Linked DNA regions of Homo sapiens. The protein of the gene in region 2 purifies or fractionates together with the protein of the main gene of each other region. This does not show direct contact. Each region holds a gene or a part of one and is shown on either strand. Other genes may lie near its edges.

Region 1 (3,500 bases), on a different chromosome or scaffold from region 2:
CATATAGTTTTAGCTCTTGCATTTAAGTCTGTGATCCATTTTGAGTTAATTTTTGTGTGTCTTGTGAGGTAGGGGTCCACATTCACTCTTTTGCATGTGGACCTCCAGTCATCCTAGTACCATTTGTTTCTTTATCATTAGAAAATAATGTGTTAGAGGGAACTCTAAAGTCTTCTCATTCAAGCACACATTCTTCTGTGGGAAACAGTCTGCTAATAGATATGTAGATTGTTGGATCTAGGTGGAAAATTTTATCCAAACTTGTTTTACTCTAAAAGTATAAATGATCCTTACTAATAGAATTATTCACTGGCTTGGTTATTAAAGGTGAAATAATAGAATTTTAAAGTCCTTACACTTTTTGTTGGGAAAAGCTATTAATTTTAGTTTTTTTAAAATTTTAGTTTTTTTTTTAAATTTAATTTAATTAATTTATTTATTTATTTTGAGATGGAGTCCCACTCTGTCGCTCAGGCTGGAGTGCAGTGGTGCGATCTCAGCTCACTGCAACTTCTGCCTCCTGGGTTCAAGCCCCAGGTTCAAGCGATTCTCCTGCCTCAGCCTTCCGAGTAGATGGGATTACAGGCGCGTGCCACCGCGCCCAGCTGATTTTTTTTATTTTTAGTAGAGATGGGGTTTCCCCATGTTGGCTGCGCTGGTCTCAAATTCCTGACCTCAAGTGATCTACCCGCCTCAGCCTCCCAAAGTGTTGGGATTACAAGCGTGAGCCACCACACCCAGCCGAATTTTAGTTTTGACCACGCTACTTTTTTTTTTTTTTTTTTTGAGATAGAGTCCTGTTCTGTCTCCTAGGCTGGAGTGCAGTGGCACGGTCTCAGCTCACTGCAATCTTCGTCTCCTGGGTTCAAGCGATTCTCCTGCCTTAGGCCTCCTGAGTAGCTGGGATTACAGGCGTCCACCACCACACCCAGCTAATTTTTGTATTTTTAGTAGAGACAGGGTTTCACCATGTTGGCCAGGCTGGTTTCGAACTCCTGACCTCAGGTGATCTGTTCGCCTTGGCCTCCTAAAGTGCTGGGATTACAGGTGTGAGCCACCATACCTGGCCCACAGTACTTTTCTTTATGACCAGCTTGCCTATCACCAGTTGCTTAGGAGAATGACTTACCACTATTAAATAAGTAAATTCCAGGAATGGGCCCTGTGACTTTGATTTGAGGCCCATGTTTGAAACCTATTTGTTTTTTTTGTTTTCAATATCATATTAATAGATATGGCAGTTCATTTCTGATTGACAGTCACACAGGCCTCTTAATGAATCATGATTTCAGCCATTCCAGAGGATGACTGCCTCCAAAGTGAATTTCATGTACTAGTTATCAGGCCTTTGTTAACTACCCTTCCCCCAAACTTGAGAGAAATCTGTCCAGCAATTTGGTAGTAGATAGAAACTTCACTGATTTATATAGGTGAGGATTTTCCAGCATTTAGAGTAAGTCATTATTTTAGCTATTTTAGTTAAAAACATAGGGAACATGAGAGTTAATCATACTATTCAATTTACTTTTGTGTAGTTTGAAAATTTTTATAATAAGAAGTTTTAAGGAAGTGTATGGTGCCCAGGTTGTCGTACATTTTGAATTAGGATCCTAAGAGTTATCTATTTCTTTGTGATTGACTTTGAAGTTTTTCTCTCTGGTTTGCCTTCCAGATTCCACTGATCTCTGACTTTTCTCTTCAGGTAATTTATGCTGCCAGGGATGCCCAGATTTCAGTGGCTCTCTTTCTTCATCTTCTTGGATACCCTTTCTCTAGGAATTCACCTGGAGAAAAAAACGATGACCACAGTAGCTGGAGAAAAGTCTTGGAAAAATGCCAGGGTGTGGTCGACATCCCATTTCGAAGCAAAGGAATGAGCAGATTGGGAGAAGAGGTTAATGGGGAAGCAACAGAATCTCAGCAGAAGCCAAGAAATAAGAAGTCTAAGATGGATGGGATGGTGCCAGGCAACCACCAAGGGAGAGACCCCAGAAAACATAAAAGAAAGCCTCTGGGGGTGGGCTATTCTGCCAGGTAACTGAATCACTCCCTGTCTAGTAAAGAGTCAGTGGCCCAGCCTTAGCAAAGGGTTTGATGCTTCCCTGGGGTCTGGGGAGAAGGCTTGTAGTAGGGGAGCAGCAGCTCTCCCGGGGTTAATCTTGCTTTTTCTTTCCATCAGAGACATTTGGTCTCTCCTTTGCTTTATTTGTGTATTTTTCTCCTTTTCCCTTATTTTACCTTTTTATTTATTGACAGTTGGGGTGGAAATGAGGAAAGCTTAGCTTAGTTCTGTCATTGACCCTGATGTGACCTTAGGCCTTAACTTCTCCAACTGTAAATGGGGATATAATTATCATTCCTTCCTTGTTTCAGGCTAGCTGTGGAAAATAAATAACATGTAGTGCCTCATACTTTTCAGGAGAAATGCATCATCTGATTTCTTGTTCATATGTTATTTGATTATTTAGAATGACATCCAGCTCCAAGAAAATGTTACTCTCTAGCCAATGAAAAATGTCCTGTATAACTTATTCCTCTATTGTAGGAAGATGACTAATAAGTACTTTGGAGCATAAATTTGGTCCCTGTAGCAAAGTGCCTTTAGGAATTAATTGGATGATTAAATTGAAGGAAGTGTTACTGCATGTGAGTTAGAAGTAAATCCACATGGCCCTCATTACTTTGGCTTGAACTTTAAAATTTTTAATGTACTTTGTTTAATCCAGTGATTTGGCAGTTTTCTTGTTGCTTGGTTCTTTTTTGCATTCACAGCAGAGCTGTGTGTAAACCACTTGACACACTCCCTAATGTCCTAGTCCATAAGTGTAAAAACTAGAGGCATAAACTCATTCATTTTTAGTTCTGTTTCCTAGCCCAGTGCAGGTGAGGATTAAACATGGTTTCTCACTCTGTTTTTTCCATAGTGGTGTGTTTGACCTTAGTGTTGAGAATAGTTTTGAGTCACTCAGAAGAGAGCATGGGAAGGCAACAGACATTTTGACCCACAGTTAGCTTCCGGTTTGAGATTTCTCTTTCCTTTCCCTGCAGAAAATCACCTCTTTATGATAACTGCTTTCTCCATGCTCCTGATGGACAGCCCCTCTGCACTTGTGATAGAAGAAAAGCTCAGTGGTACCTGGACAAAGGCATTGGTGGTATGAGATTCAGCTGTCCTTGTTTATCTCTAATTAGGTGCATTGGATGCTGGCAGGAGTGGGGAGTGAGATAAGGAAGAGGGAGGGATAGAAGAAGGCAGAGAGACCGTGAGATGCATGGGACTGGGTAGGCACAACCCAGAAATCATGTTCTCTGCCAGGCCATAGCAGAGAACAGTGAAGGTAGTGCTGCTTCTTGGGTGTGGTGGTGGGGGCAGGGGGAGCAGTCAAACACTGATGTCTCTTCTCTTAAGAGCTGGTGAGTGAAGAGCCCTTTGTGGTGAAGCTACGGTTTGAACCTGCAGGAAGGCCCGAATCTCCTGGAGACTATTACTTGATGGTTAA
Region 2 (2,703 bases):
AGCAGTGACTAAAGGGGACAAGGAACCTGCCTTCACGAAGCTAGCGGTATAGAGGGGAGAGACAGGACTCACTCACACACTCACAGGCGCTGGGAAGGAAAGGATGGATAGAGTGCCCAGGGGAGCAGGCCCAGGAACCAAATTTAGATGAGGAGGTCAGCAAAGGCCTGGTGGAGGAGTCCATGTAAGTCGAGGCCCCAAGGATGAGTCGTCAGCCGCTCGAAGCGTGGGCGGGAGAACATTCCAGGCAGGGGGAACAGTGTGAGGTGGGAAAGATCTCGGCCAGCTGCAGAGTAGGCTGCCTCTGGGCCAGAGGCCAGAGGCCAGAGGGAGGAGGTAGAGGAAGAAGCATCTAGGAGCAGGCAGGGGCCACGCCTAGCAGCTTGACAGAGGCACCCAACAAGGAGTACTGGGAACAGGAACAGACCAGGGGCTCAGGATCAGAGAACAGTGGCGGCCAGGACAGCAGCAGGGAGGATGGGGGATGAGAGCCTTAGATGAGGGCGCTGGCAATGGAGGGGCAAGAAGCAGAGACTCCAGACACAGGTGGAATCCACATGGCTGCCACTGGAATCGCCAGAGCCCCACTGGCCCCAAGCCCCTCACCTTCTTGCTCACAAGGAAGCTGGCAGCCACAGCCAGCCCGTGGGTGAAGTTATCGATGGTGTTGGCCAGCAGGTTGAGGTAGCCGCTGACCTGGGAAGGAGGGAAGGCAGGAGGCAGGGCTGAGTGGGGCTGGCCACTCAGGGCAGTACGGCTGCAGGGGCCCTGAGCAGGCCACTCACTTTGATGCTCCGGACCACGGCACCGAGGCCGGGCTCTGCAGCCGGCTGGGCCAGACAGTGGCCTCCATTGAGCGCGGCGGCAGCAGCAGTGGGGTCTTTGTTGGGGGCCTAGGGCCAGGAGAAGGAGGGAGAGGTGACATTAGATGCCCCCCACTCAGCCAGGGCAGACAGAAGGGGAGAGAGATGGAGAAAGAGAGACGGGGGCTGGGTGCAGTGGCTCATGCCTGTAATCCCAGCACTTTGGGAGCCCAAGGCAGATGGATCACCTGAGGTCAGGAGTTCGAGACCAGCCTGGCCAACATGGTGAAACCCCACCTCTACTAAAAATACAAAAATTAGCTGGGCGTGGTCCCAGCTACTTGGGAGGCTGAGGCAGAAGAATTGCTTGAACCTGGGAGGTGAAAGCTGTAGTGAGCCGAGATCGCGCCACTGCACTCCAGCCTGGGTGACAGAGCGAGACTCTTCTCAAAAAAATAATAATAATAATTGGGAGGCTGAGGTGGGTGGATCAAGAAGTCAAGAGATCGAGACCATCCTGGACAACATGGTGAAACCCCGTCTCCACTAAAAATACAAAAGTTAGCTGGGCATGGTGGCGCGCACCTGTGGTCCCAGCTACTCGGGAGGCTGAGGCAGGAGAATCGCTTGAACCCGGGAGGCAGAGGTTGCCGTGAGCCACGATCGTGCCACTGCACTTCAGCCTGGGTGACAGAGCGAGACTCCGTCTCAAAAAAAAAAAAAAAAAAAAAGATAGGAACCCCTGTTTTTTCTAGCTAGAATCCTCTGCTGCTATATCAGTTGGGTGCCCCCAAACTCAACAAACCCTCCCCAACTGCTGTCACCATCAGGCTACCAGAACAAGCTACATCAGGGGCTAATGGTGTCAGTCCCAAAGAAGGTGGCCCAACCTCCCGCAGCTCCCAGGAGAGGGCCAGGAGACCCCTCTTTTCAGGGCTCAACTCAGACCCTGGGCCTCCAGGCCCCGGGCACTACCACAGAACAGAGGCTGATATATCCAGGCCCTTGAGTGTGGGGCCCACCTGGCTGGTCCCCTCCTCCTTGCTGTCCAGGAACATCTTCTCCAACGCCAGGAAGGTCAGGATGCCAGCAATGACCCACAGCCCCAGCTGTTGCTGCTGCTGCAGGCTCTGCCCCTCACCACCTGCAGGGGGCGGCAATGCCAGGCCAGGCCAGGCCAAGCCAAGCCAGGGCCATAGGAGGGGGCCATTTGGAATGGGATCTCATCCAGGGCACCAGGGCAGTGACAAGGGTGGGTTGGGCAGCTGGGGCCCAGAACTCCCACTGGGACCAGGGCCCAGAGACCAGGACAATGACCCTCCCTCCCTCCCAGGCAAGCTCCTGCCAGAAACCCAGAATCCCTCTCCTGGTCATCCTGGCCATCCCTGGGCGTGGGCACCAGGCCCCCACTCCTGGCACTGTCTTGCCCCTGGCGTGTGGCCTCACTTACCAGGGCTGGCGCTGCACGTGTAGGCCCAGGCTTCGGGCAGCAGATGCAGAAACACATTGCCCAAGAGTCCCCCCAGGGCGAAGCTGAGCAGCTGCTTCAGGCGCCAGGCCCCAGCTACAAGGGAGAGATGCGGGGTCTGGGGGCTGACTGGCTGGAGCTCCTGGCCTGACCTTCATCCCACCCCACTCACTGGGCTCTTTCTGGGCCTGCAAGGCTGGATATGGGTGGCTGCTCTTCCTGGGTCCCCCACCTCACAGCAGAAACACCACACCCTGCCAAATGCCCACAGGGCCACCACCATGTCATGGTGAAGAGCTGACAGGTCCCAGCTCCCAACCCACTAGCTGGTGACCTTGGCAGATGACTTTGGAGACTCGGTTTCTCCATCTGTAAATTGGGTCTTATGGGAATTATTATTTTATCTTGTTTTGTTTTGAGATGGAGTCTCGC

Evidence for each region. Proteins that work in one complex are often made in the same cells at the same time.
Region 1: the proteins of SLC39A13 (region 2) and EXD2 purify together in Homo sapiens (affinity purification with mass spectrometry; one large-scale study listed by BioGRID and IntAct). This does not show direct contact.

The regions. Positions count from the first base shown.
Region 1 is NC_000014.9:69,232,998-69,236,497, forward strand, and holds part of EXD2 (exonuclease 3'-5' domain-containing protein 2), read left to right. Parts: intron 1-1,702; coding exon 1,703-2,034; intron 2,035-3,048; coding exon 3,049-3,155; intron 3,156-3,409; coding exon 3,410-3,500. UniProt on the Homo sapiens protein: Exonuclease that has both 3'-5' exoribonuclease and exodeoxyribonuclease activities, depending on the divalent metal cation used as cofactor.
Region 2 is NC_000011.10:47,411,590-47,414,292, reverse strand, and holds part of SLC39A13 (zinc transporter ZIP13 isoform a precursor), read right to left. Parts: intron 2,368-2,703; coding exon 2,254-2,367; intron 1,948-2,253; coding exon 1,826-1,947; intron 894-1,825; coding exon 786-893; intron 697-785; coding exon 607-696; intron 9-606; coding exon of another isoform or gene 1-8. UniProt on the Homo sapiens protein: Functions as a zinc transporter transporting Zn(2+) from the Golgi apparatus to the cytosol and thus influences the zinc level at least in areas of the cytosol. May regulate beige adipocyte differentiation.